Linked DNA regions of Homo sapiens: all the other regions are linked to region 2. Evidence: fine-mapped expression QTL. A gene starts in region 2. Each other region holds a variant in brackets. All regions are shown on one strand. Distances are from middle to middle. Region 1 overlaps TRDMT1 (tRNA aspartic acid methyltransferase 1). Region 2 holds the start of TRDMT1 (tRNA aspartic acid methyltransferase 1). Region 3 holds the start of CUBN (cubilin). Region 4 overlaps TRDMT1 (tRNA aspartic acid methyltransferase 1). Region 5 has its middle 67 kb from the start of HACD1. Region 6 overlaps CUBN (cubilin).

What was found. PIP is the estimated chance that this variant, and not a neighbour inherited with it, causes the effect.
Region 1: its variant is fine-mapped to the expression of TRDMT1 in whole blood (TOPMed, PIP above 0.99).
Region 3: its variant is fine-mapped to the expression of TRDMT1 in whole blood (TOPMed, PIP above 0.99).
Region 4: its variant is fine-mapped to the expression of TRDMT1 in whole blood (TOPMed, PIP above 0.99).
Region 5: its variant is fine-mapped to the expression of TRDMT1 in cerebellar hemisphere (GTEx, PIP 0.97).
Region 6: its variant is fine-mapped to the expression of TRDMT1 in cerebellar hemisphere (GTEx, PIP 0.91).

What each region holds. Positions count from the first base shown.
Region 1 is chr10:17,154,668-17,159,757 of GRCh38, forward strand. TRDMT1 (tRNA aspartic acid methyltransferase 1) reads right to left here. Exons shown (of 11, transcript NM_004412.7): 7 at 4,479-4,562; 8 at 2,774-3,117; 9 at 10-67. Among named protein-coding and RNA genes, the nearest start is that of CUBN, 27 kb to the left of the region's middle. The variant T/C (reference allele first, on the strand shown) is at 2,471.
Region 2 is chr10:17,198,649-17,203,738 of GRCh38, forward strand. It overlaps TRDMT1 (tRNA aspartic acid methyltransferase 1), which reads right to left and starts at 3,024. Exons shown (of 11, transcript NM_004412.7): 1 at 2,923-3,024. The coding sequence starts at 2,986. RefSeq lists a silencer at 2,662-2,721.
Region 3 is chr10:17,126,376-17,131,452 of GRCh38, forward strand. It overlaps CUBN (cubilin), which reads right to left and starts at 3,436. Exons shown (of 67, transcript NM_001081.4): 1 at 3,269-3,436; 2 at 2,746-2,875; 3 at 1,454-1,549; 4 at 386-424. The coding sequence starts at 3,390. The variant G/C (reference allele first, on the strand shown) is at 2,891.
Region 4 is chr10:17,132,811-17,137,900 of GRCh38, forward strand. It overlaps TRDMT1 (tRNA aspartic acid methyltransferase 1), which reads right to left. Exons shown (of 11, transcript NM_004412.7): 11 at 4,526-5,090. Among named protein-coding and RNA genes, the nearest start is that of CUBN, 5.5 kb to the left of the region's middle. The variant T/C (reference allele first, on the strand shown) is at 3,050.
Region 5 is chr10:17,547,399-17,552,488 of GRCh38, forward strand. No RefSeq gene overlaps it. Among named protein-coding and RNA genes, the nearest start is that of HACD1, 67 kb to the right of the region's middle. The variant C/G (reference allele first, on the strand shown) is at 3,159.
Region 6 is chr10:16,830,021-16,835,020 of GRCh38, forward strand. It overlaps CUBN (cubilin), which reads right to left. Exons shown (of 67, transcript NM_001081.4): 64 at 4,994-5,000; 65 at 1,232-1,397. Among named protein-coding and RNA genes, the nearest start is that of RSU1, 15 kb to the left of the region's middle. The variant C/T (reference allele first, on the strand shown) is at 2,911.

The DNA.
Region 1 (5,090 bases), 44 kb before region 2:
GCATAGTACCTGCACATCCTCTGCAGTCTGTAACACAGACCCTGTCCCTTCTATGTAGCTTCCATATCTGAAAAATCAACACAACAATTATGCAGCACCTGATGTATGTGTTAATGCTAAATTTCTTAAATATTTATTGAATGAATTAATCAATCTACACAGTTACATCCTTCTGAAATATCTTGAATAATGTCACATAAATATCCTTTGTAGGTAAAAAATTACTAGGTAAAAGACATAATATAGTTTCATTTAAACGTCTCATCAATGGGCCGGGCACAGTGGCTAATGTCTATAATCCCAGCACTTTGGGAGGCCCAGGCGGGTGGATCACCTGAGGTCAGAGGAGTTCGAGGTCAGCCTGGCCAACATGGTGAAATCCTGTCTCTACTAAAAATATTTAAAAAATGAGCCAGGCGTGGTGGTGCGTGCCTACCTCAGGAGGCTGAGGTAGGAGAATCTCTTGAACCTGGGAGGCGGAGGTTGCAGTGAGCCAAGATCACGCCACTGCACTCCAGCCTGGGCAACAGAGTGAGACTCCATCTCAAAAAAATGATAATAAATAATAAATGTCTCAGAAATGAAACATGGCACAGTTTTTTGAGTTGAGTAAACACCACTGAATGATGAAATATAAATTGTCATTTCTTTTTATTAATTGTCTTGTCTTGAATGTTCATCACTGGAAAGGATGCACTTTATATTCAAATATAATTCAATATTGGCTCCCTTGCCACATTAACCTAAATGTTGTACAGGTGAAAAGAAATTGCTGCCATTTTTATCAGGCCTGAACCATCATTTCCTCTCAGGAACCCACCGCCCTGCTCTCTAACACCACAGCAAACACAGTGCCACTGATCCTATGTCTGCTTGTCATTTAACACAGTATGATTTTATGATCACTTTCATACAACAATCAGACCATTATATAAAAAACTCCATAGAAAGTATAAAACACTTCAGAAATGCAAGTCATTAGCAGTATTTCTCTCTCTAAGATTATTGCCAAGCTGGCTGTTCAACATATTAGCATTATTTCTTTTTCACAAAGAAAACAGTTTAAAATAAGAATTAGAGGGAAAAAGTCAAACCAGGAAAAAAATAATTTTTTTCAAACTGTCTTTTTCATATATATTACACATATAAATACGTGTGTATATACACACAGTATCTATACCAAAATAAATTTTACCATCAGGCTCCTTTTATGCCATCTTTATAATTAGAAAAGAATTTCAAGGTTGTTTTTTATTACAAAATTGCTAAGTCTTATTTTATGAGAGTCCTAAACAGAACCTATTGAACTTGGTAATTGACAACAGCCCAGTGAAGTCTTTCAAGATAATGGAAAGCAATAAACTCTTTCCCCTGAAGTACAAGGGCAGAGTATAATAAATTCAGAATGACTCTGGTATGGTTCTACTGGGGTACAGTGTATCATACAAGATATTAATAGCTAGCTAGAAGGTAAGAACAGAAAGCCTGAATTGACAAATCATACAACTACCTACCAAATGAGGTTGAGTAGCATTCAGAAAGCACAGACAGAGATCCTTGGCAAAATTTTTCTTTTTTTTTTTTTGAGACAGAGTCTCACTCTGTCGCCCAGGCTGGAGTGCAGGGATATGATCTCGGCTCACTGCAACCTCTGCCCCCCAGATTCAAGCGATTCTCCTGCCTCAGTCTCCCAAGTAGCTGGGAATGCAGGCACCCACCACCATGCCTGGTCAATTTTTGTAGTCTTCGTACAGACAGGGTTTCACCATGTTGGCCAGGCTAGTCTCAAACTCCTGACCTCAGGTGATCTACCTGCCTCAGCCTCCCAAAGTGTTGGGATTACAGGCATGAGCCAGCGTGCCCGGCCAAAATTTTTCTTAAAAAGGTCTAATTTTCCCCTTTCTAGGTTTAAAAAAATTAGTGAGAACTGTATTAAATGTTCAAGTAATAACCCAAAGGAAGCCCTCTAAATGTTCATGAATAGGTAACCAGTAAAGTAAATTATATAATATACCTACACCATGAAAACAGAAAGTCCTTTAAGTACTGATATGCGATAATATTCTATTTATATTGTGCAGTGAAAAAAGGGGCATATATATAATATCCTGCCATTTACTTATAAAGGGGGATAAAATATACATGGATACTTAAATACACTTTCAGATACAATACCTCTGGAAGATTATACAGTAAACTGATATCATTGGTCACATGTGGGGAGAAGAACTGAATGGTCAAGAGACAGAAATGGAAGGGAGTCTTACAATCTTAGTTATCTTTTGAATTGGAAACCTTGGGCATATATTACTTATATAAAAACCTGAATAAAATTTAAATTTAAAAGTTACCCTAGTATTCTCCAGATGACTCAATATTACATCTTTAGTTTAAAATTTAATTTCTTATTATACATTGATCATAAGAGTGAACACTTGAGGTATGATGTGCCACAGAAGTGCTAAAGAAT[T/C]AGCAAGTAATAGTCTACAGAAACCATGTCTCCACTACGGGTATTTAAGCTCCTATGAAGGTCACCAAACAAATGACATTGTCTTTTATGAGCACTTTTGTGGGTGGTGCACATAATGTTCTGCCAAACGGAATTTTTACTTGTGTTCTACTGGAACATGAAGTAGGCAATTAAGGGAAAATACCTCATTCTAGCAAAAACATTTTATAAAATGCTCCTTGTTTTTAGAAGAACTTAAAGAAACAATAGCTTTAAAAAACCTGGTTATTTTGGATACAGGATCAATAGATCTTTAAAACCTACCCTTTGGTAAAGCACACGGACCTTCTACAAGTGGGCTGAACAATGTCTAACAGAAGAGCATATCGCAGCAATGACTTTGGTGGTAAAAGATACTGGTTCACGTCAGTGTCATCTTCAAGAAAATCTTTTAGCATTTTCACAGAGAGATCACTATCTTGTTGATTTTTCCTGTGAATTTCTTCTGCAGTTTCAAGCTTAAAAAGAATGGCATCTTTTCCAGAACACTGTATGCTGCCATCAAAGCTAATATTTGGTTCAACGTTCTTTTCTTGAATTTTATTTTCTACATCCATTGCATATTTTTGTGGATGTACAGATTCAATTTTGGGGAACTCCATCAGTACCTGGCATTACATAAAAATACACAAATTGTCAAAAGTTGCATTAAAAATAAGAGAAATTAACAATGTCCAGTCAACATTACGAAAACAACCTCATTAGCCTTTATGGGGTTGCCATTAAAAGATAGAAATTGTGGTTTACTTGTATTTGTACAAGTTATTACACGTTATTAATCATATAGCTATATTGTCATCAGGCTGCAGATGATTTATTTCATGGATTAGTGTTTACAGTATTTATTAATAAAAACATTCAATAAACTAACAGAAAGTATATACTGAATATAGATAAATCATATTTGTATCTTATTTGGAAAAGAAGTTTAGAAAGCAACACTAACATTTCCAGAAAACATGTTTTGAATCAAGTTTTGCCATACTCCTTCATTAAAAAGGAAAAACCAAAACATAGCTATGATCTAAAGGAAAACTAGCAATTAAAAAAAGAAAAGCGGTTTTCACTGTGAAAGGTTATTTCTACTCATGAGTCCTATGGGAAAAACTTGTTTCTGCAAAACATACAACCATGTATAAAGTCCTATTTTGTAAAAGGAAAACCATTCCAGGAATTTTTAATGATGAAGTCCTTGAAGTCAATGTATAAAGTTACTGTTAACTTAATACAATGTGTAAGGTATATTAACTTTACATTGGAATTGGCTACTATGGAAAGGGAGCAATATTAGTATCATATTATAAAGGGATTGAGGTGACACTACCAATCCCTTATTAGTAGACATGACTTTTGTGTCCTTACCTATGAAAGTTAGGGAGAGTTTCGCCGAAATGCTGAAACTCAGTTATCCATCCCCGTTTTTTGACCTAAGCATGTAAAACTGCTCACATAATTAGAGATTCTTTCTGTAGCAATTAAGCATTTTATTCTAGCTTGTACTAATCATTACTATATTTTAATCAATTAAGCTAAATAGCATTGGCTTTAAAGAAAATGCAACCCATGTATTAAAATATTTGTAAGCCACTTTTAAGATAAAATATTATCAAAAGTAACCAATGGCTTCTATGGGAAGGATAAAATGATAAATGCAAAATAGTCAACGGTCAAAAGGGAAATTATGGGGGAAGGAGGAAGATAACAATACTAATGATAAGTTTTTTAACTCATTTGTTTTCTAATGAGAAAAAGAAACATTGTTTTGTTTTGTTTTTGTTTTGTTTTAAAACAATAAAAGTGGCAAGATGAAAACAGCCTTGAAGATGGACCTAGGGCATGGTCTATACTTTAGATTCTATAGTACACAGAGACAGCTACACAAAGTAGTTCTTGAAAATAAATTAGCAGACTAATATATATTTATAATAAATAAGCCATAATATTCATAATAAAATTCCAATAATAATACCTGACCAGGGGCTTGAAAGGGTAATGGCTCTGACTGAAGCTTTGCAATAAGAAAATATCGTAGCCTTGAATTTGGAATGCCAAGCTGTAAGCAAAGCAAAGCAGTTAGTTACTCTAAAAAATTAAAGAGAGCGGTACCAACTTTAGCACCAAGTTAAACAGCAACAACAAAAAACTCAAACGAGCCTACATTTAGCTTCTACCACAGCAAAATTTGCTACGGATTTGTAGAAGACTCCATTGTAGTACATTTTAAACTATTAAGTTGCTACTTTGTACTTTTATTTGAATGAGTTAAAGATTGAAACTGACAAATATATCTACAAGTCACTTCCATTTTATATTTCCCAGCTAAGACGTAGTATAGATATTTTTACATTCATTATTGATAATATATTAATAATTTAAAAATTCAAATATAGCTATTCTTGGCTATTTATTACCTCATTTTGTTAAAAAAGGATGATACACTATGTTTTACAAGCTAAAAGGCAATAAATATGAAATAAATTTTAAGAGATCAAATATGTTGCCAATTTCCACAGCTTGTATCTTGAATTTTTGAAATGGGTTTTCTATTAATTTCTGGGCAAAGAACAATATAATATGGCTA
Region 2 (5,090 bases):
GGAATTTGGAGTTATTGTTTAACAGGTACAGAGCTCTGTTTGAGATGATTAAAAAGTTTTAGAAATGAACAAGGGTGATGGTTGCACAACATTGTGAATGTACTTAATGCCATTGAACTATACATTTAAAAATAGTTTAAATGATACATTTCATGTTGTGTTTTACCACAATAAAAAAATTCCATTATGAACCTTATCTAGAAATCAGTCAAAAATGAAGTTCAATATTATTCCTTTTGTGCTGCTTATTATATTATTTAATGTATAGATCCAAGGAAGTTAGTAGTTCTAACCAGAACAACGGCAACATAGCATAGTTAAAAGGTCAGGTAGGTAGACCTAGGTTAAAATACCAGTTCTACCGCTAACTAGTTTATTACATACTTAAAAAAGGACCTGAATTTAAAAGATCCCTAATAAACACTAAAGTTAGCTGCTGTTATTAGTCTTTATTATTATATTAAAAACCACCTGGAAAGGAGCAATGCATTTTATTACAGGTAAATTTTAAACTTTAGTACATCAAATAAGTGAACATGGGAAGGCAAACAAGTGTGGAAAAATATTTGCATCAATATGATTAAGAGTCTATATCCCTAATATGCAGATTTCCACCGAAAAGATGAGAGAGCAGAGAGGTACAGGGAGGCAGGAAAGTTGCTTTGGATCACAGGGTCAGCCAGGGAAGGCCAATATATGAACTAAGACATGAAATGTGAACCGAAGCTAGAGTGAAAAAGTCTGGGGTTAGGGAGCACTCTGGATGAGGCAACAGCAAAAGCAAAGGCCAGAACATCGAAGAACTTCGAGGGTTTGAGGAGTAGAGAGAAAGAAAAACAGTAAGCCTCGACAAGAAAGGCTGAGGAAAGAATTCAGGGAATCGTTTAATTAGAATTTCAGCTTTGGGTGTTGACGGTGAAGCGGGATGCTGAAGGGAGAGTGGCAGATAAAATTGAAGAGAAGACAGAAGCCAGAACTCACAAGCCTGTTAAGATGGGACTGTGATTACAATCTCAAAAGCAACCATTTAAGCAACGAAGTAACATGATCTGGTTTACTGTGCAAATGATCATGCTGCCTGCTAGAAGGAAAACGGAGTAGGGAGGCAGAATGGAAGTAAGGAGAGAAGCTGGGAAGCTATGTTAATAATTTAAATTACAGAACTTAATAGCTTGGATTCACAACAGTAGAACTGGCAATAGAAAAACGTGTACAAATTCACATTGCATTGGCTAATAGGAGAGAAAATATTTTACTCTTTCATTAATCCCAAAACTGTCACTTAAAATTACACAATTTCCCCTAACAAATTAGCAAGGATTAAAAATTGATAATACATATCCCTGATGAATATGTAGTTAAGGCACTCAAAAATCTCTGAAAAGCAATTTGCTATCCTCTCTCTCAAAAGCCTTAAAAATTCTGTTTTTCACTTAGTAACTAGCACACAGTTAAGTCTTACTGTTGAATTAATTCCAACAGTTAGTAAACATGCTTAAAGAGAAAATCGGCATTATGCTCAAGAATGTAACTGTAGCACACTGTACTTGCAAAAAAACTGAAGAATGATCTAAATATTCGACACTTAAGGAATGGCTGAATTACAGCTTATGATAAAGTACTAAGCAATTCATTAAGGAGTTTCAAGATATGGGAAAACGCGGACATTATATCACTTTAGAGAATTAACAAAGAGTAAATAGTACTAGAGTTTTGCTTTGATGCTGCTAAGTTTTAAAATGAGAAATAAAGATAGCCGGCAAACAAGTACTAAAAACTTAATGATCATTAACCTAGTCTAGAATTGAAACTCAATAAATCTGCTCAAAAAACTTATACGCTAAACCCATTAAATATTGTCTGTATCTTACAGTTACTCTTGTTACTCTTGGTCCTAAATAAGGAAGCAGGGAAGTTTCAGTTCGGTGGTTGTCTTAGTAATTTAAGAATAAACATGCACCTTCAAAGCCTGTTTGTCATTCTGTATCCCCAGCTCCTAGCACAAAATCTGGCACAGAATAGGAGCTCAATAAATAATTTTGAGTGAATATCACCAAAAGTAAAACTTTCAGTTCCAACTCAGCATGAAAGAAATCAAAAACCTCAAAATCAAAGACGTGCATAAAAGTAATAGTTTGCTTGATAATATCTCGTGATGTCGTTTTAAAGTAATAGTGATAATAATGTATAATATTTGGAGTGGTTACAATGTATCAGGCACTAACAAGCACTTGACAGACTTTAATCCTTATAATAATCATTCTCTTTTAAAACCAGGAAACAGGTTCATCACTGTTCACGAAGTAGCCCAACGTCACACTGCCACCAAGCTGGAACTCAGTTCTCTGGCATCTAAACGCAGAACTACAGAAGACACGTTTCTTTCCAACGATCAGACGTCCAAGTTCTTCAAGCTTCCTCTACCATCCTATTTAGCATTCGCAAACTTCTACCTTGAATTGTAGCTATTATCCCTTCCAAGATCCATCTCTCACCAGGGGAGCCCCTGACACTCCCTCCCTCCCCAGCTGGGAAGCCCCCCAGGATGAAGGACCGAGTCTCCATGCTTCTCGGTGGCTGCACACTTAGAATGGGGGCTTGGCACCAGGCGAGGGTCTCGCCCCTTTGATACCCTTTGAGGTTGATTTACTGCCTTGCGAATCCCGACTCCCAACTGGGCCCTTTGAGGCGCCATGTGCGGCCCCTCGAGCCAGACTCGGCGCCAGGAGAAGGGAGTCAGCGTCTGGAGGGGTGGACACGGCGGCGCGCAGGAGCTGTTTCCAGGACAACCGAGGGCCGCCCCACAGTGTCCGCCCCACAGTGTCCGCCCCTTGCGTCTCGCCGCTCCGCCCCTTCCCGGCGCGGGTGCTCCAACCAGCCCCCGTGAGCGAATAGAGAGAGGGGTGCTAGATGGACTCTCACCTCTCAGCGCGTGGTGCATGCCGCCCACGCCGCTGTATAGCTCCAGCACCCGCAGGGGCTCCATCCCCGCGCCTCAGCCGCCGCAGCCCCGGAGCTAGGCCTGCCGGTCCGTCGCTCCTCCTCCCTCCATCGCGCCGCTCCCTCAGCCTCTGGTTCCGCGGCGTTTCAGTTCCCCCGTCTCCTACCGCTCCAGGCTCAGGGCTTCAGAGGGCCTCGCGGCCTGGGGATTGGCAAGGGTCTAGAGGGGAACAAAGGACGGAAAACAATAAGGCTTCCCGAATGAATGGCAGCCACTCTGTAGCCTGATTTACGCTCCATTTCCTTCTTTGGTGTCAGGGGCCTTGATTGGAAAAGAAATCCAGAGTTCAGTAAAGGGGAGAAAACTGCCTTGGTTTCCAAGTGAATTAACACTGGTTAGAAGCCAGAAAAAAATCATTTTTCAGACAAGCTGCTTTTCTGTCACTTAGAAGCCTGAACATTCAAACATTCTTTCCACAGTGTGCCTTGTTTCCTGCCTGCCCTGGGTCAATAGAGAGAAATTAGACCAGCCTCTCCCCTAGAGAAGATTCCAGAATTATAAGTAAGGACACAAGTCCACTCGCAGCAGAGAAAGCCCTGTGTGCGTGCTGATAATACAGAGGATGTTTGTTGTGTCTATTAGTGGGGTTAATTATGTTTTAGCTTGGAAATTACACCTACATAGAATACACAGTGAATATCATGTAGGATTATTTATGGGTCTTTAAGTGCTATGGCCTTGATTCCTCAGGATGATCCAGTAACCAACTGTTAGAGGCTCATGTTGACGAAAAAAGCCAAACTCCGTAAAATGTTTGAAGAGGTTTATTCTGAGCACAAGGTGAGGACCGTGACCCATGACACAACCCCACAGGGTCCTGACAACATGTACCCAAGGTGGTTGGGCTACAGCTTGGGATTATATGGTTTTAGGGAGACATAAGGACATTAACTGGTATATGGAAGGTGTACTTAGTTTGGTCCATAAAGATGGGACAACTCAAAAAGGGGAAGGATTCCAGGTTACAGGTGGATTCAAAGATTTTCTGATTGGCAGTTGGTTGAAAGAGTTAAGTTGTGACCTAAAGACCTGGAATCAATAGAAAGGAATGTGTCTGGGTTAAGATAAGGTGGAGACCAAGGTTCTTATTATGTAGACGAAGTCTCATACGTAACAGGCTTCAGAGAGAATAATTGGCAAATGTCTCTTATCATGTGTAAAAAGATGCCAGACTCTTAGTTAAATATCTCTTGGATCAGGAAAAGACCTGGAAAGGGAAAGGGAGTCTCTATAGAATGTAGATTTTCCCCACAAGAGATGGCTGTGTAGGGCCATTTCAAAAAGTGTCAAAGAAATTTATTTTAGGGTAAAATGCTTTGATTTAGGGCCTGCTATCTTTCATGTGATGCTATACTAGAGTCATGTTGGAATTTTGGTATCTTATTGCTAAGAAGAGTCTGTTATGTCGGTATGAAGATCTCTTGTTTTAATAATAATACTGGTCAGTTGTGCCTGAACTCCAAAGAGAGGAAAGTATAATGAGGCATGTCTGACTTCCCTTTCCCAGCATGGCCTGAACTAGTTTTTCAAGTTTCTTTGGAATCCGCTTGGTGGAGGTGTTCAATCAGTCAGTTGGGGGGAGCTTAGAAATTTTGTGGGGGGAGCGGTGTTTACAGTCAATTATAAATAAAAATAATGTACCCATATGGAGGATAGAAAATGTTCCCGTTGTGAAGTGTTTTTCTCTTTGTTCCCAACACTGCCACAGGTTTTTGTTAGGGGGAACTTGGGGGTACCACTTGTAATAACAATAACTGATTTGTTAGAAATGTTGCATGCCTGCTAATGTAATGCTGTTAACAAATAAAAGTATAACCACTGCATCCAAATTATAACATTCACTGGTTCCTTTTGATGTGGTCTATGAAATTAACTTTTTAAATTGTACATGTGCATTGGCCACGTGCTTTGCTTTTTGTTAGTCACTTTCAGATAAGAAGAGGTGTATGGTAGAAAGATACCAGATAACTCAGCTTTAGCCCTGGCGTTGCCAGTTAACTGATTGTGTGACTTTGAGATGACCCTGGTTTCCTCATCTGTAAGATAAAGCAGAAGGGAACAGAAAGAGATGGATTGTTGAGGGTGTTTT
Region 3 (5,077 bases), 72 kb before region 2:
TCCGAGCTTAGCGTCAGAGAGGATGCTTGCTTTCCGAGCCCCAGTCCCTGATGGGAGAATCAGCAAGTTGGGAGATCACTAGCTGACCAAGCACAGCACACACAGCTAAAGGGTGATGGTAAAGGATGTGGGCTGTGGGCTGCAAACTCAGGGTCAGAAGCCCTAACAGGCTCGGAGACCTCAGCCTTGTCATTTCATCTGTCTTAGACTCAGCTCTGCATCTGCATCCTGGGAAGCACATGCTGGGATGAGAATTAAATTATGGGAAAAAGCAAGTTTTTAATATTAATCATCCATTCACCTTCAAAATAAGAATAGCAGCTCTATTAATGATTCTAGTATGTTTTCTGTGAAAGATTTGGGTATGTAGTAGCATGAGACCTACCTGCTGCAAGCCTTGGAATTTTCTCTCAAGATCCACCAGCTGGCAATAGGGAAGAAAAAGCTTCAGTTAGCTGGTTCAAAGGCATTGCACATGTGATGTTATATCCTTGACATATTGTCCTAATGCCCTCTGCTAGGGACACACTTTGTTCATTCCTCCTTTTATTCCCTTTTTCCTCTTCATTCCTCTCCCCTCAGGATTTTCTTCCTTCCTATTCCCTCCTATCACATAGATTTCTGGGGTTTTTTTAAGTTTTTTTTTAAAGTACAACCCACTGATAAGTTGACCGATTGCTTCTCTGTAGGCAGTGACTATGGAAATGTTCATAAATGTCAGTGATGCATCCACTTCCCCAATAAGAAGATTGCTCTCAGAACTTCAGCAAGGCTTCTTTTCTTTCTTTCTTCCTTTCTTTCTTTCTCTCTCTCTCTTTCTTTCACTCTGTCTTTCTTTCTCTCTCTCTCTCTGTCTCTCTCTCTCTTTCTGTCTCTCTCTCTCTCTTTCTTTTTTTTTTTTTTTTTTTCTGGCAAGGTCCCACTCTGTTGCCTGGGCTGGAGCACAGTGGCATGATCATAGCTCACTGCAGTCTCAACCTCCCTGGCTCAAGCCATCCTCCCACTTCAGCCTCCCAAGTAGCTGTGAGTACAGGCTCATGCCACCATGCCCAGCTATTTTTTTTTTTTTTTTTTTTTTTGGTAGAGACGGAGTCTCACTATGTGGCCCAGGCTGGTCTCAAACTCCTAGGCTCAAGCGACCCTCCCTCTGTGGCCTCCCAAACTGCTGGGATTACAGGCAGTTTTTTATATTAATCATCCATTCACTTGCAGTGAGCCACTGCTCCCAGCCCAAGGCCTACTTCTGCAACAAGTGCTTGCACAGCATTTCCTGCCTTCTGTCCATCACTTCTACAGCCTCCATTACAGCTGTGTCATTTAACCAAACAGTGAGTAGTTACATGCTAAATCTCTAAAGAGCACACAAAGTTGGTATATCCCCTACAAAACGGTTACTTATACAATAGAACTAGGGAGAACTCATCGGTTCTTATGACGTAGATGTCAGACTTACCTTGGAATTAAGCTGATAGATTTGACTAGATATATTTTGAGGCAGACCAATTGCACTCCCTTTTAACTCTATAATATCTTCTTTGTTTTTCTGGATCTAATTTTAGAAAAAGAAGAAGAAATGAAGAGCACTAGTGAAAATATCATATTTATCTTTACAGTAACATAATTAAAAACTTGAGTAGTATTCTACTTTAAGCACTAAGATCTTGCCTATTATTATAAAAACCAAAACAACACCATGCGTAATAAACACTGGGCTAAAATAGCCACAGCATAATTCCACTTATCCTTTTCAGTAACAATAGATCAAGGTATTTTCCATTTGTATGTTTTCCTATAATACCAGTTTAGGGTGCTTATTAAGAAACCTGGCTTGGAAGCAGACTGTTTAGGTTTTAAGTCCTGGCTCAGCTATTTATTGCTGTCCTGGGCAAGTTACCTAACTGCTTCAGGGTTTCTTTACCTCTTGTAAAACTAGGGTGACAATAAAGGCCACCTCATAGGACAGCTGTGAAGGTCAAATGAGATAACATCCATACGGTGCTAAGCACAGTGGATGGCCCACAGTAAGCTCTGAATAATGCTGACTTCTAACATTATGACTGAAATATGCAGTGATTATTGGGAAATGAAAACACCCAGTAAGGCAGGAGAATAACTGGCCAATTCTGTTCTGTGGCAAAAGCAAACTGGTCACATGTCCACATATCCTTGGTCCCCTACTTCCTCGCATCCCCTGTGGAGGAGTTTCAGTTCCACCCTCCGTGCCTTCTCTGGACTAGGGTGCATTGTCTGGCACAATGAGCTTCTATCTTTTAGCATACTCCCTCTACCCACTATTAACCCCAGGCCATCGTCCTTTACAAGAACATGTCTGATGCCCAATTATGTTCTCTATGCTAAAGATTCAAGGTACACTAGGAAGGGGGAGGGAGGCTGAAGACAGGTTGATTAATGAATACAATATATAGTTAGATAGAAGAAATAAGACCTAGTGTTTGATAGACCAGTAGGGTGACTATAGTTAACATTAATCTATTGTACATTTCAAAATAACTAGAAGAGAACAATTCATATGTTCTTAGCATGAAGAAAAGGTAAATATTTAAGGTGATGGATATCCCAATTACCCTGATTTGAACTTTACACATTATAGGAATGTATCAAATTATGTATTAATAAAAAATAATAATTAAAAAAGATTCAAGGTACAGATTAATCTAGACTTGTTCAATTAAGTCACCGTATATGGATATACAAAATGACTTCAATATATTTCCAGTGTATTACCTGATGTAAACACTCACTGAGATCTTCATCATTTAATTTAATTTTTCCCAGGGATCCGGTTCTAAACTCAATGTTTTGAGCAGACCCCGTAAGAAACACCAAATTTCCTCTCTCTGTAGCCATTCGAGGCCTATATAATTCAAAC[G/C]AGAGAATGCATCAGTAATTAGCAAGTACAATTTTTAAACCAAAATAACAAAGTTTCTTACTGAATAACTACAGGCCAAATACATCTTCACTTTTTGATCATCTCAACCCAACTGCCCCTGCTCATCTGCCACTTTTTTCTCTGCACATTTCTCAGAGATACCTCCTGGCAATTGCAAACAGATTATTTGCAAAATGACAGATAATAATTTGTGCATAGGAAAGTAATTTCATACCTCAGTCTAAATGTTTTTCCCTGTTTGCTTCTCAACATAATTTTCCTCAAGAAAAATTGCACCTTTGTTTATCTGGCTATTTGGGAAAACTGGTGAGGAATTAGCCTAGTCCCTGAGCAGGAATGACCCATGTGTTTACTTACTGTTGGAGATTGATGCTTCTTTTTTGTCTCTGCAGCTCAAGTTCTCCAGCTTCGCCATTTACTTCAGCAAATATTAATAAGGTAAGCAAACTCCAAAGAAAAGGTAAAGACATGTTCATCATCAACCTCCCAGGTTGGCAGGTAAGAGTGAGGCCACTCCAACCAACTGAGCATGGGATTTTGGAGAACAGCAAACCAGGCAGGTGTACTTTGAACCATGGAATATCCTGTAACTGTTGAGTTTTTTCTTCTTTGCCCTAGAAGGCTATGTTATTTTTTCTTCCAGAGGGATGTAAATGATCTTAGATCTTCAGTACTCTTCAACTTGTGAGAGGTCAAAATCTACCTTAAGTGATGCGCAACTTAATCATTATCTATTTGACCTTTGAAACAGTAACAAGCAGCTTTGAAAACATCCACTTAAACAATCTTTGCTTAAGAAGTAACTAGGTTTCAACAAAAGTAAACTGGTCATTATCTACACCTTTCTCTGTTCCCCTCCTTCCTCACCTCCCTTGCAGAGGAGTTCCACCTTTACCCAGCGCTAGGAAAACTAGATATCCACATGCAAAAGAAGTTGGAGGCTTACCTCATACCATATGCAAAAATTAACTCAAAAAAGTTCAAAGATCTAAATCTAAGAGCTAAAACTATAAAATTAACTCACAATGGTTCAAAAAATCTGAAACTATAACATAAAACTCAGAAGAATAGGACAAAAATTCATGACCTTGGATTTTGGATTTGGCAATGATTTCTTGAGTATGATACCAAAAGCATGGGCAAAAAAAGAAAAACACACAGACAACCAAAAGATATAAATTGGAATACATCAAAATTAAAAACGTTTGTGCATCAAAAAATACATCAACAGAGTGAAAAAGCAACTCCCAGAATGGAAGAAAATATTTGCAAATCATATATATATGAAAATGGGTTAATATCCAGAATGTACAAAGAATTTGTACTTTTTACTTTTTATCATCCCTGTGGGACCTATGGACGGCTGTGGAATCCATTCCCACTTTCCACACTGCGCTATACACCCTTCCAGCTGGATATATGGTTTGAGGACATGGAGCACTGATGTCCCCACTCACTCTGTGCTGGGACTACAGAAACCACTGAGAGTGATGAAAATATTCTACATTTCGATTGTAAAATCAACTATTGATGCACTCAGACTTTCCATGAGCACACAGACAAAACTGAATTTGAGGGAGAGCTGTAAAAATTTCACTTCTAAGAAAAATCTCTAGGTAATTACCATTGCATTGGTTAATACCCATGCAGGCTCTTTCAGGACAAGCCTGTTTGTGTTTTACTTATTTTGTGTCTTACTTATGTAGGCTCTTTGAGGAGAGGATCATTATGTACCATAGCTTATAATTCTTTACTTATGCCGGGCGCGGTGGCTCACGCCTGTAATCCCAGCACTTTGGGAGGCCGAGGCGGGCGGATCACGAGGTCAGGAGATCGAGAACATCCTGGCTAACGTGGTGAAACCCCGTCTCTACTACAAATACAAAAAATTAGCCGGGCTTAGTGGCGGGCGCCTGTAGTCCCAGCTACTCGGGAGGCTGAGGCAGGAGAATGGCGTGAACCCGGGAGGCGGAGCTTGCAGTGAGCTGAGATCATGCCACTGCACTCCAGCCTGGGGGACAGAGCGAGATGCCGTCTCAAAAACAAAACAAAACAAAAAAAAACTTTACTTGTGATACTCAAATAGTCACTGCTTTTAAAAATTTTTTTTAAACCTTCCCAATTTCTTCTATATGTCTCTTGTATCTGCTTCTTTCACTCAACATA
Region 4 (5,090 bases), 66 kb before region 2:
AGCTCAGATCAATAGGCAAGTCAGACTGTCTGCATATGTTGACTCTGTGAAAAGCAATATAAAAATCAATTGCTGTTTCCAAGGGATTGGCACTCATTCTGTTTACTTACTCTATTCAGAAATACTTCAGGAAAGATGAATTAAAGTAGTTTTAGAATCTATGACCTTCAGATCTATATGGTAGATAACCTCTCTTCTTCTCCTCTCCCAAGGTAAACATTCTATAGACCTGAAATTCTATCTTTCATTGACTAGTAAAACTCCTGTCTCTTCCCTAATCTAGAATGCATTCCCCTAATATTCTGCATGTGCCCTTTACATATTAGCCATCTATAAGATGATAGGAACACGAAATGTAGTAAATTGCAGATTCTTCCCTCTGAAGCCTCCAGTCTAGGGAAGACCACATGGTTGAAGGTTAAGAACACGGGCCTGAAGCTCATTTATGTGCGTTCAAAGTCTGACTCCATCACTTACTGACCATGGAACCTTGTTTTTTCATCAGCAGACAGATAATAACAGCACTGAAGTTATGTAAAATGTTTAGCACATTAGGTTACTGGCACAAAATAAGTGTTCATTAAATATAAGCTGTTATCAATATCATGTAAAGAAATATAATAATCCTCACCCTCCTGTATCCTCTCTTGGGTTTAGATTCCTTAAAAGAAAAAATGACAAAAAGAATTCACAGCTGTCTTTATAATCTTGGGTACAAGGAGAAGCAAGGGTGTCTGATCATTTCTCCTATAAAAGAGGATTTCAGAGCAGAGAGATGAATTGGGGACTTTGAGTGAGGAAGACGATTGCTGACCTGGAGTTAAAGGTGTGAGGCAAAGGTAACTGATGTCTAAGAACAAGGCAAGGTGACTCCAGGAAGCACAGAACAACTCCACATTGGTGGGTGGAGAGCAAGATTCCATTTAAATCCAAGAGTTTTGAAGAGCAGGCAATCCAAAAGAAACGGTATCATCCTTGAGTGGAACTGAGTAACCAGGGTGAGGAAGCTTTTATATGGGGTGCTAGCAATGGAGCCCTCGGACAGGGAGGATCTGCTCTGGGGGCTGCTCAGTGTTTGGAGGAGGGCACCTAGTTGGAGAGTTTACCTAAGGAACCCTTATGCACATTTGTACGCATTCATTAAAATAAAACCCTTAGGGCCCGGCGCGGTGGCTCAAACCTGTAATCCCAGCACTTTGGGAGGCCGAGGCGGGTGGATCACGAGGTCAGGAGATGGAGACCATCCTGGCTAACACGGTGAAACCCCGTCTGTACTAAAAATACAAAAAATCAGCTGGGCGTGGTGGTGGGCGCCTGTAGTACCAGCTACTCAGGAGGCTGAGGCAGGAGAATGGCTTGAACCCGGGAAGCGGAGCTTGCAGTGAGCTGAGATCATGCCACTGCCCTCCAGCCTGGGTGACAGAGTGAGACTCTGTCTCAAAAAATAAAAATAAAATAAAATAATAAAAAATAAATAAAACCCTTAGGTCAGAACACTGATAACATTAATGGCATGTTGTAGACTTTAAGTTTATAATGGTGTCTGCTGTACTGTTGATTTCCACTCATCAGCCTTTACTCTCTTTGACTTCTTCAGCAAGACACATGCAAATGTATTTTGCATTGTTGCTGATACCATACATGGTACATGGAATGAGGGTGGTATCCAAATGTTCAGTGTACTGCTCATCCATAATTCATGACCTGCTGACTTCTGCTCCGGTCCTGTCGCATGGTCTCACCTTTCTCTTTCTTCCTCATCCTGGCTCCACAGCCTTTCTCACTGAAGTCTTAGCTCCCTTCTCTCCCTCCCTCCCTCCTTCCAAAACCACCTGAAGGTGGTTGTAAGAATCAGAATGAACTACTCCTTTCTCCTGTTTTTTATGTTTTTCAAGATATCTCTGTGCAACCTTTTCTCCTTCTGTGACATTCACTTCTCCTCCCTTTATATTCTGAATGCTCAGTTCTTTGCTCCTCCTTTAAATAATTCCCACAGACTTCACAAATAAAAATTCCTGTGGTCATCAAAAACATACATGAAAGTTAATCCCAGTATACTAGAATTTCATATGAGGGGAATTTAAGGTTAAGAAGGGGTCATGGTAATCAGAATATGGCTAAGGACAAAAACAGAGGTTGGGGGAGGGGGAGGGAGAGAGAGAGAGAGAGAGAGAGAGAGAGACCTTTATTGGAGAACAATGGAGGAGAGAATTAACTCTGCCTGGAAGGGGAATGCAGGCTTCCCAGGAGTCCATCTGAGTAGTTCCCAGGTAGAATAGTAGAGTGAGGAGTTTCAGGCAGAGTAATGGTGTATACAAAGCTTTTCAGTAGAAAGTAGCTCAGCAGGGCTACAGCAGTGTCTATATGTGGGAGATGAAGTTTTAAAAATGAACAGGAAGCCAAATCAAGAAGGACTTTGAAATATCATTTTAATGAGCTTAGATTTTATTTACTTTTAATACTGCAGAATTATGAGAGTCTCTTAGGGAAGAGATTAACATGGTCATGTTTGCATTTTACAAGCAACCCTGTGGAGCCATGTCTGAGACCCAGAGTTGGTAAGGAGGTTAGAGTACATGTTTCCCCCCGCAGATGGAGTCTCACTCTGTCACCCAGGCTGGAGTGCAGTGGCGTGATCTCGGCTTACTGCAACCTCTGCCTCCTGGGTTCAGGCAATTCTCCTGCCTCCACCTCCTGAGTAGCTGGGATTGCAGGCACACACCACCACACCCGGCTAATTTTTGTATTATTATTAGAGACGGGGTTTCACCATGTTGGCCAGGGTGGTTTCGAACTCCTGACCTCATGATCGGCCCGCCTAGAGTACACTTAAAGAGATGTGACCTGGGGAGCCTTAAGGCAATGGACAGTCAGATGAGGAGACAGTGAGAAAGATATTCAGAAAACAGGCTACAGAAATACTTGGGTAGTTAATATTTCATTAGAACTATTAGAGGGGGAAGTTGGCCGGGTGCAGTGGCTCATGTCTGTAATCCTGACACTTTGGGAGGCCGAGGCAGGCAGATCACTTGAGGTCGGGAGTTCAAGA[T/C]CAGCCTGGCCAACATGGTGAAACCCTGTCTCTACTAAAAATACAAAAATTAGCTAGGCGTGGTGGCGGGCACCTGTAGTCCCAGCTACTCAGGAGGCTGAGGCAGGAGAATCACTTGAACCTGGGAGGCGGAAGCTGCAGTGAACCATGATTGCACTATGCACTACTGCACTCCAGCCTGGGCAACAGAGGGAGACTCTGTCTCAAAAAAAAAAAAAAAAAAAAAAGAACAGAGGTTTCTTGCTTGGAAAATTGGAATTGGAAGGAAAGAGATGTCATTAATTGAGTAAGAGAATAATCAGGGGAAGAAGATTTTGGAGGAAAGATAGTTCAGATTTGGATACATAGAGCTCTAAGGAATATCAACCACTCTGCTGCTTCACAGGCCTCACTCTCTGCAAGTGGTTTAACCATCTAAGATGGGAGTGGGGAAGATGTAGAGATGGCGTAGACTAGAACCTTGCTACTCCAAGTGTGGTCCACAGACCCAGCACAGGCGTCACTCAGGAGCGTGTCAGAAATGCAAAATCTCAGGTGCTACTGCCAACCTGCTGAATTAGAATCTTCATTTTACAAAGATCCTCCTCCCTGCCAATTATCTGTACACTCATTAAAGTGACCTAGGAGCACAAAGACACCTTCACTCATGACGAGAGTCAAGTGGTCCCTGCCATTGCGTCTGCATTTCCATTTCTACATTTTTCTTAGATTGATTCTCCAATTTTTAAATAATTTTCTATTTTCCACCTCTTTGTCTTGTTTTGTTATACTTTCTGAGAAAGTATTTATCTTTTAATTTTCTAGTAATTTGTTTTAAAATGTTGCTATCATTTTAAATTTGAAAACCCCTTTTTTGATTTTTGCTCTTGTTTCGTAGTTGTAACATCATCTAGTAATTTTTAGATAGTTGCTTTTTGATGTTTTCTTGTTTCCTGTATGGGCTCTGTTTTCTCTAAGTTGTTTTTCTCCCATTTGTTTGCTGGTTTAGGTCTTTCTAATTCATGCTAGAGGCTTTCCTCAAATACCTATGGATCCTTATATGTTCATTGACATTTAAAAATAACACATTACAGAATGGATGGTAGGCTCTGTGTGCATGGGTGGCGATTATAACTGGTAGGCTTTGCCACAGAGCAACCGAATGGCAAACTGACAATTTCACTGGGGAACCCCAAATGCCCATCTTTGAAGGCATCTTGCCCTGGAGACGTTCAGAAAAAAATTCTCCAGTCTTCTACCTGGACTAGTAGAGGTGACTGGAGATTTTATACTAAGTGTACAGACTTTACTTACCCTCTTATTTTCTGTATTTTTCTCCAAATTCTTGAAGAGCATCTCATTGCCACATTAGTATATTTCACTGCTGTTTTTTATACCAATGTTCACTTTTTATTCCTACCAGCTTTATCTAAATTCCATTGTTTTAGAGGCTTAATAAGCATTTAGTGAAGACATACGAAGTCCTTGACCATGGGGGAAATTTGAAAGAAGTAAATTTATTGACCTTCTCTGATTTACAATAAAGTCGTAATGTACAAATCTGGAGAGCCAGAGTTAGGCAACATTACAAAGACAAGTGTGACAAGATGGCACAGATACACAGTAGCATGCTGTTAAGTAAACAGCAGGTACCAAACTAGGAAAGATGTCCAAGGCCCAGTATGGGCACACTATAGAAAGTGGTTCCACTGGCCGGGCTCAGTGCCTCGTACCTGTAATCCCAGCACTTTGGGAGGCCAAGGCGGGCTGATCATTTGAGGTCAGGAATTTGAGACCAGCCAAAATGGTGAAACCCTGTCTCTACTAAAAATACAAAAAAATTAGCCGGGCATGGTGGCACACACCTGTAGTCCCAGCTACTCAGGAGGCGAGGCTGAGGCAGGAGAATCGCTTGAACCCAGGAGGTGGAGGTTGCAGCAAGCCGAGAGCCACTGCACTCCAGCCTGGGTGACAGAGCGAAACTCTGCCAAAAAAAAAAGAAAAAAAAAAAAAGGTTGTTCCACTTGTCCAGCAGGGTGACCTTGAAGGAAAGTGGCTGGGT
Region 5 (5,090 bases), 350 kb after region 2:
CCAAAAAAGGGGTCTTGATCCAGACCCCAAGAGAGGGTTCTTTGATCTGTCACAGGAAGGAATTCAAGGCAAGTCACAGAGCATAGTGAAAGAAGCGAGTTTATTAGAAACTTACAGAGAAAGGCATCCTCAGAAAGGAAGTAGAGGAAAGCCCTGGCTTTAAGTCTTTCTTAAACACTGAGCTGTGTCCACGCGCAGGTGAGCAGGCATCATGACAAATGTGTTACTCTGTTGATTTAAAGAGGACTAGCCTTGGCTGGGCGCGGTGGCTCACACCTGTAATCCCAGCACTTTGGGAGGCCGAGGCGGGTGGATCACCTCAGATCAGGAATTCAAGACCAGCCTGGCCAACATGGTGAAACCCCGTCTCTACTAAAAATACAAAAATTAGCCAGGCATGGTAGTGCACACCTGTAATCCCAGCTACTCAGGAGGCTGAGGCAGGAGAATTGCTTGAACCCGGGAGGCAGAAGTTGCAGTGAGCCAAGATTGCACCATTCCACTCCAGCCTGGGTGACAAAAGTGAAACTCTGTCTCAAAAAAGAAAAAGAAAATAAAAACTAGCCTTGACAGTCTAGTGTGTGAGTACACCAAAGCATACCAATTATTACCTAGAAAACATATATTCTTATGGGTTTTGGGGCATCTGGATTTTCTGATGCTGTAGGAGTTTGTCCTTGCAGGGATTACCAAGCTGCTTTCTTAGCTGTAAGCATCTTGGAACCATGGGTTGCGCCTGTCAAGAAATGTGCTTTGCTAGTTTAAAGATGGAGGTCTTCTTAAAATGGTGTCACCCTGGCTTTCCTTGGCTCCTGCTTCCCTAACATACCTATAAACCAAACTGTTACTTTTTTTGCAGGTTTTTATACATTGAATTTTCTAGGACTGCAATGACCAAAATTTGTTTTGGAACTTTGCCAAGAGTGGTTCACCATTTGGGGAAATCACAGGACTGATTGCAGCACCAATGCAACATACTTGAGTCTGGCTGTACCTGCAGCGGTCACATTCATGGTGGGCCTACAGGGAGGGGCAGCCATCCAACAGCATTATCTCTGCCAGTGTAGTCGTGTCCAAATATTTACATAGGAAAGGCTTATTGTTTCAGTTATTCTCTTATTATTTCTTTTGCTCTTTGGATCTGATGTAGAGAAACTATATTTAAACTGGGAGTCATTTCAGATAGGATATGATCACTAATTGAAATCCTTGAAAAATTAGAAGATTACTTGGAAAGGTGAGTCCAAAGCCAGCCGAGGTTAGAGAAGGAACAGCTGGAGATCTTTCAGAAGCCCAGGGTCTTCTTTGACCAGCTATTTACTATGCATTTTCCTCATTCCTGAATTCTTGGTGTTGATGAAGTTCTTCAAGGCTAAGAAGGGAAAAGGGGTCTCTTGAAGGCAGTTATGGCTTTATAAGATAATTGCAGTCAGGAGTATTGAGAGAGAGAGGAACAGAGAGAGAGGAAAGAGTTAAGAGAAAAAGATTTATGGTAAAGAATTGGCTCATGAGATTGCGGTACTGGGAGGTCTGAAATCTGCAGGGCAGGCCGGCAGGCTGGAAGATTGATGTTGCAGCTGGAGTCCAAGGGCAGCCTGGAGGCAGAATTCCTCCCCTTTCCAAGACCTCAGTCTTTTTCTCTTAAGGCCTTCCAGTGATTGGATGAGTCCCATGCACATTATAGAGGATAATCTGCTTTACTCAAAGTGGACCGATTTAAATGTGAATCATATCTAAAAACACAGCTCCACAGCAACATCTAGACTGGTGTTTGATGAAACATCTGGGTACCACAGCTTAACCAAGTTGACACAAAAATTAACCATCGCAATAACCAAACAGAGCTTGGAGTGAAGGTGTGAAGGTAGATATGGGTCCGTGGAGGTGGGAACACCTCTCCCTCTGAGCTGGAGACAGCAAGCCTAGAAAGTCTCAGTGAGCAGAGGAAAGTGGCCTCTTCAAACTTGACTGGAGGCTAAGATTCAGCCAGGATTGGCATAGAGACCCTATTTCCAGTTTTCCTTGGAGCACGGCAGAGTGCCCCAAAGCCAGGTGTCCAGCTCCCCAATCTTCATCTCCTGGTGTTTTGATCAAGGTGTTGGGGACGGTTAGTGGCCAGTTGCTCCCAGCAGGCACAGATTCCAGAGAAGGCACAGTCCTGTTCTTTCTACCTGAGACACAGCCCTTGGATTTAGTGGAAGAGGATTAAGCCCTAGTCTTGGGAGATTGCAAACTCTCCTAGGAGGCACAAGGCAGCAGAGATCCCAGTGGAGGATGAAAGCTCCCCAAGAGGGTCCCAGAGGACTCACACTCACCCCAGAGAAGACACACAGGTCAGGGAGAAAAGGTTAGATTCTGAATGGAAAAAAAAAAAAGGAGACTGAGACCTTCTCAAAGGAGTCCCCTATACTGTCTTTGTTTTTGTTTTTTTTGAGATGGAGTCTTGCTCTGTCACCCAGGCTGGAGTGCAGTGGCACAATCTCTGCTCACTGCAACCTCCGCCTCCCAGGCTCAAGTGATTCTCCTGCCTCAGCCTCCCGAGTAGCTGGGACTACAGGCATGTGCCACCACACCTGGCTAATTTTTGTATTTTTAGTAGAGACGGAGTTTCACCATATTGGCCAGGCTGGTCTCAAACTCCTGAACCTATGCTGCACCCACCTCGGCCTCCCAAAGTGCTGGGATTACAGGCATAAGCCACTGCGCCCAGCCAAGGAGTCAGCAACACTTTAACCATATCACATAACATGGTATAAAAGGTCTTGGTATTGGTTTATTTCTTAGGAGAAAAGTAGAATGGAAGAGAAGAGAATTATTGAGCATTGACTGTCTACCAGTTGCTATGTTAAGCACTGTACGTGTATTATTTCAATTCAATCTTTAATTCTACCCTGTTAGGTAAGTAGGATTATTAATCCAGCTTATGAAGAAATTAAGCTTAAATAATTTGGCCAAGGTCACAGAACAGGTAAGTGGAGGGGCTCGAACTCAGATGCAGAATATCTCATTACGAAGTTTATGTTTCTGATGTGGTACCAGGCAAGTCCCAAAACTGGGGCTTAGCCTGGGAGGATTCTTGGCTTTGCCCAGGAAAAAAATTCAAGGATGAGCCAGCGGTGTTAGGCAGCAACTTTTCTTGAAGCGGCAGTGTACAGGAA[C/G]AGCAGAGGGACCGCTCTTTGCAGAACAGGACTACCCCCCAGGCAGTGTGCCCAGAGTAGCAGCTCAAAGGTAGTTCTGCAGTCCTATTTATACTCACTTTTAATTACATTCAAATTAAGGGGCAGCTTATGCAGAAATTTCTGGGAAAAGGGTGGTAACAGGCTGGGTGCTGTGGCTCACACCTGTAATCCCAGCAGTGTGGGAGGCCGAGGTGGCTGGATCACCTTAGGTCAGGAGGTCGAGACCAGCCTGACCAATATGGTGAAACCCCGTCTCTACTAAATATACAACAATTAGCCAGGCATAGTGGTGTGCACTGTAGTCCCAACTACTTGGGAGGCTGAGACAGGAGAATGCTTGAACCCAGGAAGTGGAGGTTGCAGTGAGCCAAGATCGCACCACTGCCCTCCAGCCTGAGAGACAAAGCAAGACTCCGTCTTAAAAAAAAAAAAAAAAAAAAAAAAAAAGGTAACTTCTGGGTCCTCAGGTCGTTGCCATAGAAAGGGGTAACTTTCAGGTGTTGCCATGACAATGGTAAACTGACATGGCCCACTGGTGGGTGTGTCTTATGGAAAGCTGCTTCCCCCTCCACTCTATTTTAGCTAATCCTCAATTTGGTCCGGTGTCCGAGTCCTACCTCCTACCTCACTTCTAAGCCCTATCTTAAGCTTCTTTCCAGTAAAAGGAAGATGAGGCTTGTGGTCTTATGTTGTACATTGGTTTTCGTCCATGGTTACTGATTCATAACTCCCATAGCCCTTGTTGCAAGACTTTTGTTACGAAGTTGGATGTGTTAGGCCTCAGGCGCGGACCTCCAGACACAGAATCTCTCTCCTGCCCCCTTTTCACCCGCCCAAGGCAGGACTCTAAGAGTCCCCTGCCCTTCTGACTGTGGGTCTTAAGACCCTCCCATGAGAAGGTCCCACCCAATACCCTGGGGGAAGGAACACTGATGGCATGAAACTTTCATAAAAACCCAAGAGGACAAGGTTCAGGGAATTTCTGGATAGCTAAACGTGTGGAGGTTCCTGGAGAATGGTGGGCCCAGGGAGGGCGTGGAAGCTCTGCACCCCTTGCCCCGTATTTCACCCTAGGCATCTCTTCATCTGCATCCTTCACAGCAGCCTTTAGGATAAATCAGTAAATGCTAGTGTTTCCCTGAATTCTGTGAGCCGCTCCAGCACATCAGCTGAGTTGAAACAGATCACGGGAACCCAAATTGAAGCCGGTCGGTCAGAAGTTCTGGAGGCCCAGACCTGCAACTAGAGAGTGTGTTTGGGGGAGGGGTAGTGTGGGGGACTGAGCCTTCAACTCACTGGATCTGACACTATCTCCAGGTAGATAGTGTCAAAACTGGATTAAAGGATGCCCAGATGATGTCTACTGCTTGGTATGTGGAGGGAAAAAGCATTCCGTCACAGAAATCTTCTGTGTTGAAGATTGTTGTGGTGTGAGGGTGGAGGAAAAGCACGGTGAGAGAGAGTTTTCCCTACACGAGGCCTTCCCAGGAGACTGCACATGGAGGGAAGGATCCTGTGCAGAATTCTGGGGAGGAGGGTAGGCTGGATCAACAACAAAAGCAGTAGAGAGACTGAGAAGGGAAAAAGAAGAGATTGATAAAGGAGGGGATTTTTAGTGCCTGCCGCAAAAGGAAAATCTGGGGAAGTGAGAGGTAGCTAAGTAGAATGTTTAGGAATTCTTCTGTGTGCGATGCTGAATGAAACTACTAAAAAGGAAACTTACAAGAAAAACCTATGCTATTCTCAAGACTTTTGGAGTCAGACTGCAGCTACCATTGCCTTTCTGTTCCTTCTTCCTTTTTATGAAATACAGGCCTACATCACCTGGGGCCAAAATGAGGGTTTCTTTCATTTTGTTTCAGATTTTCTAAGATTTTGTTTTCCTCTTCTCAGTGTTTTTCAAACAAATCC
Region 6 (5,000 bases), 370 kb before region 2:
CATCTCCCAAGTTCAAGTGATTCTCCAGTCTCAGCCTCCCGAGTAGCTGGGATTACAGGCATGTGCCACTACACCCAGTTAATTTTTGTATTTTTAGTGGAGATGGGGTTTCACCCTGTGGGCCACACTGGTCTGGAACTCCTGACCTCAGGTGATCCACCCACCTTGGTCTCCCAGGGATTATAGGTGTGAGCCACAGCACCTAGCTTAATCTTGGTGTTTTATTTGCTCGTTGATAAAATTTGAGCATTGGAGGTCACCTTTAAGCTTCCTTTGGGTGCCAAGATTCCATTACCCACGATTATCTTTATAGAACGCTTTTCTTAAGATATTTAAAGTGAGTTCTGTTTATCTTTCTTATTTTGAAGGTATTTTGGTATTTTGGGATATTTTATAAAGGTATTCCTCCTCTCTTGAATTAAATGTATTGACATGACTTAAATTTTCTTTAGTTGTTTGATAAACAGCCAGCCAAAAATGTGAGAAGATACTTACTACCCTAAAAAAAGCAATTTCTCTCCAGAACCGCCAAGAAATGTCAGGGCCTGCGAGAAGCACAACTACTCATATATATGCCAGAATGTGTTCATAAGTTGGATTTTTGGTAAAAATTTTTCTTTAAATTCTCAAAGAACTTCCTTGATGGTCAAGCCAAAAGTCAAAAAGTCTAACAAAATTTAATTTACCAAGGAATTTTTGAATCTTCCTACCTTACCTTATATATGTTTCATATATGAATATATATTCTTTTATAAACAGAAATAATGAATAAATGTAAAATTTAAAGTAATCTGGCCGGGCGCGGTGGCTCATGCCTGTAATCCCAGCACTTTGGGAGGTTGGATCACCTGAGTTCAGGAGTTTGAGACCAGCCTGGCCAATATGGGGAAACGCTCTGTCTACTAAAAATACAAAAATCGGCTGGGCATGGTGGCGCATGCCTGTAATCTCAGCTACTTGGGAAGCTGAGGTAGGAGAATCACTTGAACCTGGGAGGTGGAGGTTGCAGTGAGCTAAGATCACGCCACTACACTCCAGGCTGGATGACACAGCGAGATTCCATTTCAAAAAAAAAAAAGTAATCTGTACTTTCAATGTTAAAATCTCTATTCTTAACATAAACTAATCAGGTACACAGGTAGCTAAAAATATAAAGTTACTTTGCCTTTTACTATTAGACACCTCATGTTTTTCTCACAGTGCTTTCCTGTACAAAGTGCAAATGTCTTACCAGAGGGTGATGAAGTCCAGATGATTTCATATCCACGATCAGAAGTTACACTATCACTCTTAAATCGTAGGTATAGTTCATTATTTTGAGAGAAGACAGGGTTTGGCAGCAGAGTTCCACAGTACTTGCCCAGTAATGGTGAATTGCTGTTACTTCCATTTCTCACCTTTAGGAAGGAGTCATTCATTATTAAACTTACACTTTCTTCTCTAAGGTATATACATTAAAATGGAGACAATTTGAATGATGACATTGGTCGGAAAAGCTTTGTCTTTTTATACAGTTAAGAATGAAGCGTTTTCTGAAAATACATGCAGAAGTCACCTTCACTTGCAAAGGGGAAAAATGTTCCACGTGTAGATCAAAAAACATTTGCATTTGGATTCAGAAATACCTGTTAACCTACAGCAATTAAAACACCAGGCAGCTTTTTTATACCGTAGTTTGTGCTGTGATCCTGCAGCCTTTGCTTTTGGGGAAACATTCTGGAGAATGTAGGTAAAGTGAATTTTTAAAAGGTGGAGATGGGCGGGGGCAATGTTGCCTGCTCTGCTTCCAGTCAACTATTACACCTTTCTCATTGTGTGTGTGTTTGTGTATGTGTGTGTGTGCACGTGTTTCCCATTGAAAATTACTTGGCTGTAAAGAGGCTATGAAAAAATACAATGCAAAGTATAATAAAGTTCAGAACGAAAGGAATTTCTGTATGGGCAAAGGACAGAATTATAAATCTATACAATGTCTGTTGTTAAATGTGTTTTACAAACACATTCCGAGGCCTTGTTGCTTTTTTGTTTCAACTCATTTTTGAGTAGACACATATAAAAACAGGAGATGAGCCTGTGTTTTATGGGGAGAGAGAACTACACTGTGAACTGAACCACTTTCTGTCCCCCAGCCTGGCTGCTACCCTGCATTCACAACCAGCCCTGCTTCCAGGAGGGCTCTCGACGCTTCTTACGGAAACGTTACGCGGGCAATGTATGTTGGAACCAGCCTGACATGCGGAAATGCTGATTTTACTGATCTATGTATTCAAAATATTGGAAGTTCCTCTGTTCCCTATATAATTCCATGGTTTAAACTTTGGTTAATTGCTGGTATCTTAAGTCACAAAGTTAAGACATCTTGCTGGGCTGTGTTGATCAGGTGAGATTCCTTTTAGGTCGATGTAGTAGCCCATGGGAGAGAATAATGCCTTTCTAGTGCTTTGGGGATTATTCTGCTAAGTGTTTAAACAAAGTAACCTTGCCATGACAGAGTAGCCAGTCATCCACTAGTAGATGGGAGGGCTGCCATAGCCAGCACCACGCTTTTGAGTTTGGGCGTTTTTCCCTCAGGGTCCTCTTTCAAAATGCCGTTGCTCTGAGAGGAGCAGCAGGATACTAATTTCCACTGACACTGCTGACAACTTGTCTTATTCACTTTCCTCTCCTAGGAAGAATGGGGCCACCTAGAGCAGTGGGCATCTCTGGGACATCAGAGGATCTTGAAAGGGGAGGTGAAGGCATGAAAACAGATTCCAAGCATGGTCTAGAGCTCGGCCCTCGCTTGGTAGTAACACAGTCAGAATTCTCAGTCAGACATTTCCGTTCCCACCGCAGTTCACAAGAACGGAATGCTGAGGCTTCCTGGTACAGCTGCCAAGAAACTATGCCCACAGCCTTCCCACTGAGAGC[C/T]AGATGGAGCTACATTTTACAGGCCTAAGCGGTGGTTTCCTTTCTTTGCTTATGGGACAGGAAGTTTCAGATCCATTCTGTGGAGTAATGAAGGACAGCTAGGAGGAGGAATTCTCACTCTCCACGGCTGGAAAGCAAGGCTTTGCTTCCCAGCATCTATCAGGCAAATGGCAAACGTTGACTCTGATCAATAATGGTCCATTCAAGCTGGAGTGAGTTAAGAGTTAGTTGCACTGTGACTCCAACCTAACGGGATTATTCCATCTTTCCTCCAGATCCCACTCTCCTCATTCTTTCTGCTTTACACTTCATATAAATATTTGGATCTCCATGGTGGGGGAGGTACACAGGTCCAAGTTGAATAACCTGACCGGCACAAAGAATAACTGTATTTGCCTCTTCATTTCCTCCCTGCTATATACATCTTTCGGTCTCCTGTCGTGGCGAGTATTCCTTTAGAAAAGGCATGAGCTTCCTCCGAGTGTTATTTATGGCACTATATGTTAAGGTTATTGATTAATAAAGGATTTAGATGAATTCCAAAGGGGAGAGCTTTCCAGGATGATAAAACTCCGCATCAGGAATCATGTTGAAGCTAAACCCATATGCAAAGACCATATGCCAGAACACCCTTCCTGGCCAGGCTGGGCAGAAGGTGCCAGCAGCCCTAGGAGCCAAATCGGATGAGGGGGGTTGCAGGGCAGAAAAGAAAGAAGAAGAAAGAAAAGAAAGAAAGAAAGCCCTTGGTGCTAAGAAGCAGAAGATGTTTTGTTGGGAACAAAGGCTGAAGCTACCAAGAAACTATCAGCTGAGCAGAGGCCCGCTAGAAAGAATCGTCCCACAGAATGAAAGGAGCCCGCTGCCTACACCGGTACATTTCTTTATGCTACAAAGGTCAAATCCTCTTGGGCAGCTTATTTTGAATGAAGACCTGATTAAAGAGGCAGTGAGAAAAAAAATAAAATAAAAAATACAACTCCAGATCAGGGGTAGAGGAACAAGCACACTTTTTGGAAACTTTACTGAAGACTCTTGTGTGGTACAAAGCCAGTTTAGAGACGGTCAGGATGAGGTTTAGATTTAAACTCCACTCACAGAGGAACTCAGCATCTTTATGCTCTTGGTTTTTAGGTTCCACCTAAGTATATTTCCTAAGGATGAATGCATTTTCGACAGAGCTTGCAAAGCTCAAACCCCGTGAGCTCTGGGGTTTTTCTGGCAAAACACAGGGGCTGAGTTCCACACACTGGGTCCACATCACATGAGGCTTATTCAGACTATCTCCTGCCTATGAGCGATGATGTTCATGTTCCATCTCATATGCCCAATGCAGCGATGGGGCAGAAAGAGCACAGAGGGAGCTCATCGGGGGCACTGGAGGACCCCAAAGTTTCAGGCCCACGAGGCGCATGGTTCTGCCTGCTCCAGGCACAAGGGGGCTTCTCTCTCAGTGTGTCCTGGGGTGGGAGTGGGGGGTGGGTGTGTGGACGATGGGCAAACAGTGAAGTCATTTCTGTGCCCAAATTCAAGCTCTGGAGTTGTGGTGAAGAAAGGACAGACCACACCCCCCTGAGACCAGGGAGCATTTATTCAAGGAAACACTTGTCTTTAGAGGATGTTGACGATGCCCCAAACTTACTGTAGCTGTCAGGAAAATTAGGTGAGCTATTTAGTATCATTGAGCTTCATTTTACAGAACCAGCATGTTGTCCTTAGACTTCCCTCTGATCCTTTTAGGTCTCAACTTACATATTGCCCTCTTGAGCCTTCTAGTTCCCAGACTGAGTTAGGAACCCCAACCCATGCTGGACTCAGTTAGTCCTTTCCACATTGTGCTGTAATTGGCTATACCCCATCTGTCCTTCCTGCCAGACTAGGAGTCTCCTGCGGGCCCTAAGGTTCCCAATTTCCGGTGTTTGGACTGGTGCTCTGTAGATGTTTAGGGAATGAAAGGGTAATGAATAAATTAATGAAACAAATAAGAATCATATAATATTAGCAGCACTAGATAAAAGGTGTAAAATCTTAAGTGATCCACCATCTTTTAAATAATTCATTCAAACGATATTCAAATGCATATCACCTCCAAG